Linked DNA regions of Homo sapiens. The protein of the gene in region 2 interacts with the protein of the main gene of each other region in a pairwise test. Each region holds a gene or a part of one and is shown on either strand. Other genes may lie near its edges.

Region 1 (3,654 bases), about 36 Mb from region 2:
TTTTTTTTTTTTTTTTTTTTTGAGATGGAGTCCTGCCCTGTCACCCAGGCTGGAGTGCAATGGCACGATCTCGGCTCACTGCAACCTCCGGCTCCTGGGTTCAAAAGATTCTTTTGCCTCAGCCTCCAAAGTAGCTGAGATAACAGGCACCCGCCACCACACCCGGCTGATGTTTTGGTGTTCTTAGTAGAGATGCAGTTTCCCCATGTTGGCCAGCCTGTTCTCGAACTCCTGACCTCGTGCTCCACTTGCCTCAGCCTCCCAAGGTGCTGGGATTACAGGTTGTGAGTCGTCGTGCCCAGCCGTTAGTCAGTTCTTATTCCTTATAATGCTGTGTATTTTCTTGACCTCATACATCAGAAGGTAGTGATCTTAACATGTATTTCAGTTCTTATATTGTGTGCTGGTGGTTAAGTAGATGTTGTGGCTTTTTTCTTAAGAGGGAATTGTTTAGAATTCTGCAGGCTGTATAAATGTACTTATTTGCTTGCTGGTTTTATCATGGGTTACAATATTTTATTAATTAATTTTTATAATTTTGCATATGGCTTTTCAGTATGTGGTATGCAATATAACTGACACACTCCACTCGTTAATGTCAAAAGTGCCACCAGGTGCAGTGGCTCACACCGGCAATCCCAGAAATTTGGGAGGCCAAAGGGGGTGGAGACCAGCCTGGCCAACATGGTGAAACCCGGTCTCTACCAAAAACACACAAACTAGCCAGTCATAGTGGTGTGTGCCTGTAATCCCAGGTACTTAAGAGGCTGAGGCAGGAGAATCACTTCAACCCAGCAGGCAGAGGTTGCAGTGAGCTGAGATGGCACCATGGCACTTCAAGCTGGAATGCAAGACTGTCTCAAAAAAATAAAACTACAAAAAATGGTTTCAAAAGTCACTATGTGCCTGTTCTGTGTGGATATATGTAATTTTATGACATTTATTGAGAAAAGTATTGTATTAACTTTTTTTTTCTTTTTTTTCCTTTTTTTTTTCTGTTTGAGGCATAGTCTCACTTTGTTGCCCAGTGTGGAGTGCAGTGGTGACATCTTGGCTCACTGCAACCTCTGCCTCCCCGGTTCAAGTGATTCTTGTGCCTCAGCCTCCTGAGTAACTGTGACTACAGGCACGGGCCAGCACACCTGGCTAATTTTTGTAATCTTTTCTTATCTTCTCAGTGCTATAATTGTTTGATAATACAGAATTTCCATTGCTTTTGGTTATCCTTACATGAGCTTGTTGTGGATTATTTACCAATATAGTATATTGTGTGGTGTTTTTTTTTTGCATTTATTTGTACACAGTAAATATGGTTTAAATATGAAGAGTATATATTTTTCTCTTCCTTGATGTGACAGTGATATGTTTTTTGCAAACTGTGATACACTGTAGGGTCACAGTGGAAAAATACTCCTTACTTTAGGCTTACACATGTTTGTGCCCTGTCAGTGTTTTGTCATGATATAGGAAATAAGCTTTTATAGACTTGATTTGAAGGACATGTAATTGTCTGTTATTTATTAAAGAATCTTACTACTTTTGTGTTCGTAAACTTTGAAGATCATGTTTGGGAAGTTTAAAATAAGTATTTTTTATTGTGTCATATTTACACACTTCAGTATGATTTACCATCTGCACTTAATTGCAAACGTATTGGTGTTTATATTTTGTAGATATCTCTTCCAAACGCATGATGAAGGAGGTCTTGTCAACAGGGCAAGGCAATACAGAAGTGATCCACACAGGGATGTTGCAAAGACATGAAAGTTATCACACTGGAGATTTTTGCTTCCAGGAAATTGAAAAAGATATTCATGACTTTGAGTTTCAGTCACAAAAAGATGAAAGAAATGGCCATGAAGCATCCATGCCAAAAATCAAAGAGTTGATGGGTAGCACAGACCGACATGATCAAAGGCATGCTGGAAACAAGCCTATTAAAGATCAGCTTGGATTAAGCTTTCATTTGCATCTTCCTGAACTCCACATATTTCAGCCCGAAGAGAAAATTGCTAATCAAGTGGAGAAGTCTGTCAACGATGCTTCCTCAATTTCAACATCCCAAAGAATTTCTTGTAGGCCTGAAACACATACTCCTAATAACTATGGGAATAATTTTTTCCATTCATCATTACTCACACAAAAACAGGAAGTACACATGAGAGAAAAATCTTTCCAATGTAATGAGACTGGCGAAGCCTTTAATTGTAGCTCATTTGTAAGGAAACATCAGATAATCCATTTAGGAGAAAAACAATATAAATTTGATATATGTGGCAAAGTCTTTAATGAGAAGCGATACCTTGCACGCCATCGTAGATGTCACACTAGTGAGAAACCTTACAAGTGTAATGAATGTGGAAAGTCCTTCAGTTACAAGTCATCCCTGACATGCCATCGTAGATGTCACACTGGTGAGAAACCTTACAAGTGTAATGAATGTGGAAAGTCCTTCAGTTACAAGTCATCCCTTACATGCCATCATAGGTGTCACACTGGTGAGAAACCTTACAAGTGTAATGAATGTGGAAAGTCCTTCAGTTACAAGTCATCCCTTAGATGCCATCGTAGACTTCATACTGGAATAAAACCTTACAAGTGTAATGAGTGTGGCAAGATGTTTGGTCAAAATTCAACCCTTGTAATTCATAAGGCAATTCATACTGGAGAGAAACCTTACAAGTGTAATGAATGTGGCAAGGCTTTTAATCAACAATCACACCTTTCACGTCATCATAGACTTCATACTGGAGAGAAACCTTACAAGTGTAATGACTGTGGTAAGGCTTTTATTCATCAGTCAAGCCTTGCACGTCATCATAGACTTCATACTGGAGAGAAATCTTACAAATGTGAAGAATGTGACAGAGTTTTCAGTCAGAAATCAAACCTTGAGAGACACAAGATAATTCATACTGGAGAGAAACCTTACAAGTGTAATGAGTGTCACAAGACCTTCAGTCACAGGTCATCTCTTCCATGCCATCGTAGACTTCATAGTGGTGAGAAACCTTACAAGTGTAATGAATGTGGGAAGACTTTTAATGTACAGTCACACCTTTCACGTCATCATAGACTTCATACTGGAGAGAAACCTTACAAATGTAAGGTTTGTGACAAGGCTTTCATGTGCCATTCTTATCTGGCAAACCATACTAGAATTCATAGCGGAGAGAAACCTTACAAGTGTAATGAGTGTGGTAAGGCTCACAATCACTTGATTGATTCATCAATCAAGCCTTGCATGTCATCATAGACTTCATACTGGAGAGAAACCTTACAAATGTGAAGCATGTGACAAAGTTTTCAGTCACAGATCACGCCTTAAAAGACATAGGAGAATTCATACTGGAGAGAAACCTTACAAGTGTAATGAGTGTGGCAAAGCCTTTAGTGACCAGTCAACACTTACCATCAGGCCATTCATGGTGTAGGGAAACTTGACTAATGTAATGATTGTCACAAAGTCTTCAGTAACGCTACAACGATTGCAAATCATTGGAGAATCCATAATGAAGAGAGATCTTCCGAGTGTAATAAATGTGGCAAATTTTTCAGACATCGTTCATACCTTGCAGTTCATCAGTGAACTCATACTGGAGAGAAACCTTACAAATGTCATGACTGTGGCAAGGTCTTCAGTCAAGCTTCATC
Region 2 (3,654 bases):
CATGGTGAAACCCCATCTTTACTAAAAATACAAAAATTTGGCTGGGCGTGGTGGTTCATGCCTGTAATCCCAGCACTTTGGGAGGCTGAGGCGGGTGGATCACCTGAGGTCAGGAGTTCGAGACCAGTCTGGCCAACATGGTGAAACTCCGTCTCTACTAAAAATACAAAAAATTAGTCAGGCGTTGTGGCAGGCACCTGTAATCAATCTCAGCTACTCAGCAGGCTGAGGCAGGAGAACTGCTTGAACCCGGAAGACGGAGGTTGCAGTGAGCTGAGATCGCGTCACTGCACTCCAGTCTGGGGGACAGAGCAAGACTTTGTCTCACAAAAAAAAAACACACACACAAAAAAAACAAGTATTTATTGAGTGCACACAAGGTGCCAGGCACTAAGATAACTGTTTTTCTTTCATTCAGTCATTCAACAAATATTTACTGAGCCAGGCTCAGATGACAGGTGGTGAGCAAAATAGATACTGTTGGTACCTTTGAGTCTTCTCAGGGACAAAGTCAATAAGAAGTGAACAGGTCAAGGAACAAGAAATTAAGCAGCATTGCCTGGTGCTAGAAGAGAAATAGGATGGTGGGATGGGGGGATGAATGGGGAGAGGCCTACTTTTGACCTAGACTTCAAGGGTAAGAAGGAGCCAGGGGAGCTGGGTGCGGTGGCTCACGTCTGTAATCCCAGCACTTTGGGAGGCCGAGGCGGGCGGATCACCCGAGGTCAAGAGTTCGAGACAAGCCTGGCCAACATGGTGAAACCCCGTTTCTACTAAAAATACAAAAATTAGCCAGGCGTGATGGCACCTGCCTGTAATCCCAGCTACTCGGAAGGCTGAGGCAGAAGAATCACTTGAACCTGGGAGGCGGAGACTGCAGTAAGCCAAGATTGAGCCACTGCACTCTAGCCTGGGCAAAAAGAGCGAAACTCCATCTCAAAAAAATAAAAAATAAAAATCAATAAATAAATAAGGAGCAAGGCGAAAGGTGTTCTAGGCAGAGGGTTCAGCAGAGGCAAAGGCCCAGAGGCCGAAGACTGTGTTTGAGGAACAGCAAGGCCCATGTGGCTGGAATAGAGTTAGCAAATAAATGAGGTGGGGAGGCATTGGAGTGGGGTGGAGGACAGGGCCACATAGGGCCTCAAAACCCCTGGGGAGATATTTGTGATGTGGGTGCCACCCACCCAGTTCCCACTCCCCACCCCATCCCCATGCTTCCCAACCCCAGGGCCACGCACGCACCATAAATTTTAAAAGCATAGTAAGCCTTGAGGTCGCGGGGAGCCATTTCACTCATCACGGAAAACATGTCCAAAAAGTTGTCCAGGGTCATGTGGCCATCCCCATCCTCAGAGAATACCTGGGCAATCCTCTGGCGGAAGGGGTTGTCCTGGGGACAGAAAGGAAGCTGGGAGGCCATCCTCTGACCCCCAAGGTCTCTGGGGTCCATGTGGTCTCACTATCAGCACCCACCTTCTGGGAACCTCCAAGTACCCTCCATCAAGACCCACTCCCTCCCATGGTCCCTGGACAGGACTTTGGACAACTCCACCCTCCACCCCTGTGATCTGAGCAACCTTGCCCCAACTTCCAGCTCTTGGAGCAGCCATGTGACCCAGGCAAGGCCAATCAGAGAGTTCCATTCACCTGGCAATAGTGATTGGCTCTGTGATGGGCATGTGACTCAAGCTAGCCAATCAGAGGCTGACCTGGGATATTTTTCTGAAAAATTGGGAGGGAGGGGACCTGATTACTGCTGCTTGCAAAGCTCACAGAAGCTAAAGCTGAGTGGCTGAGAGGTCCCTTCACAGCCTCAAGAGGTGAGGCTGCCTTAGACTGAAACCTCTTCCTGGGAGGAGCCGAGATATGGGGGGAGATTCCTGAGCACATCATCAGAGGCCCTGGTTCCAGCTGTACCTGACACTGTCCCTGCCTCTGGATTTTTTTGTTGTTGTTCAGGGGCAATCCATTTTGATCCAAACCATTCTGTCCCTCTCAAATAAGGTTTTTGTCACTTGCAATAAAATCAACCCTACTCACAGTCAGTTACTCAACCCACAAGTTCCCCTTGGAGGCACAAACCATGTGTCAAACATCCTGCTGATAAAAACCTGCATTTAGCAGCTCCTGTTACAAGAAGAACTAACGTTCTCTGAGTACTTGACACACAACACACCCTGTACTGAATTTGTTGCCTGTATTATCTCGTTTCATCCTCCCAATTCTGGGTGTTTTTTGTTTGTTGTTTGTTTGTTTGTTTGTTTTTTGAGACAGAGTCTCACTCTGTCGCCCAGGCTGGAGTACTGTGGCTAGATCTCTGCTCACTGCAACCTCCACCTCCTGAGTTCAAGCAATTCTCCTGCCTCAGTCTCCCTAGTAGCTGGGATTACAGGTGTGCACTACCACGCCCAGCTAATTTTTGTATTTTTAGTAGAGACGGGGTTTCACCATGTTGGCCAGGCTGGTCTCGAACTCCTGACCTCAGGTGATCCACCCGCCTCGGCCTCCCAAAGTGCTGGGATTACAGGCTTGAGCCACCACACCAGCCAACTCTGGGTTTTAACCCTGTCTCTGTCACATTGTAGCTGTGTGACCATGAACAAGTGTCTTAACCTCTCTGAGTCTCAGTTTTCTTATCTTTAAAATGGGGATAACTGCAGCACTGACCTCAGAGGAATGCAACGAGAGACATCTCTACTATTTTTTACCCTGTTTGTCCCATGGCCTGGGCATACCTTCAGCTCGGGCATGCTGCCAATGAGCTCGTAGGGCACCTTCACATCGGGGCAGGTGGTATAGTCGAGGGGCACGAGCTGTGGGGCCAGGTCCTGGTAGCGATAGAAGAGCCTGATGTGGGGAGGAAAAAGCTGGGAAAGACTGGGAGCAGGGAGCAGGCAAGACGCTTGTCCCTTCTTTGTTTTTTGAGACAGAGTCTCGGTCTGTCACCCAGGCTGGAGTGCAGTGGCACAATCTCGGCTCACTGTAACCTCTGCCTCCCGGGTTCAAGCAATTCTCCTGCCTCAGCCTCCCAAGTAGCTGGGATTACAGGCACACCCTGCCACGCCCGGCTAATTCTTTTGTATTTTTAGTAGCGACGGGGTTTCATGTTGGTCAGGCTGGTCTCAAACTCCTGACCTCAGATGATCCACCTGACTTAGCCTCCCAAAGTGTTGGGATTACAGGCGTGAGCCACCGCACCTGGCCAAGTCCCTTCTCTTTCACATTCACAGCTGCTCACTGCACACTGAGGTATACTGGGTCCCCAAGAACACTCAGCCCTGGGCCTGGACCTCAAGCATACAGAGCCTGACACAGGCACCCCTAACCTCCCTGGGGGCAGGGTCAAGGTGCAGAGAGGGCCACAGGACAAAGGGAGACTGGACTGGGGGAAGCAAGCTAGCGAGGAGAAGGGGGTTCCTGGAAGAGGGGACATTGGTTCTGGGCTTTGAAGCATGAGTAGGAGCTTCTAAAGCAGATGGAGTTGGGAGAAGGGAGGGTGCTTATGGCCAGATCACAGCAAGCATTCAGAGAATCCTATATAATCCACACATCTCTGGATATTGTCATGTTATCAGCAAGACCCTGCCTCCAAAGATACCTTCACTTTCATACCTTCCCTTCCTCTCCTTATAATGGGAGGAAGAGGCCGGATGC

The links. Proteins that work in one complex are often made in the same cells at the same time.
Region 1: the proteins of CIB3 (region 2) and ZNF578 interact in binary tests that used the Homo sapiens proteins (3 or more experiments, as listed by UniProt).

The regions. Positions count from the first base shown.
Region 1 is NC_000019.10:52,508,899-52,512,552, forward strand, and holds part of ZNF578 (zinc finger protein 578), read left to right. Parts: intron 1-1,673; coding exon 1,674-3,256; 3' UTR 3,257-3,654. UniProt on the Homo sapiens protein: May be involved in transcriptional regulation.
Region 2 is NC_000019.10:16,166,895-16,170,548, forward strand, and holds part of CIB3 (calcium and integrin-binding family member 3), read right to left. Parts: intron 2,848-3,654; coding exon 2,736-2,847; intron 1,391-2,735; coding exon 1,243-1,390; intron 1-1,242. UniProt on the Homo sapiens protein: Acts a an auxiliary subunit of the sensory mechanoelectrical transduction (MET) channel in hair cells. Plays a role in regulating hair cell MET channel localization and function.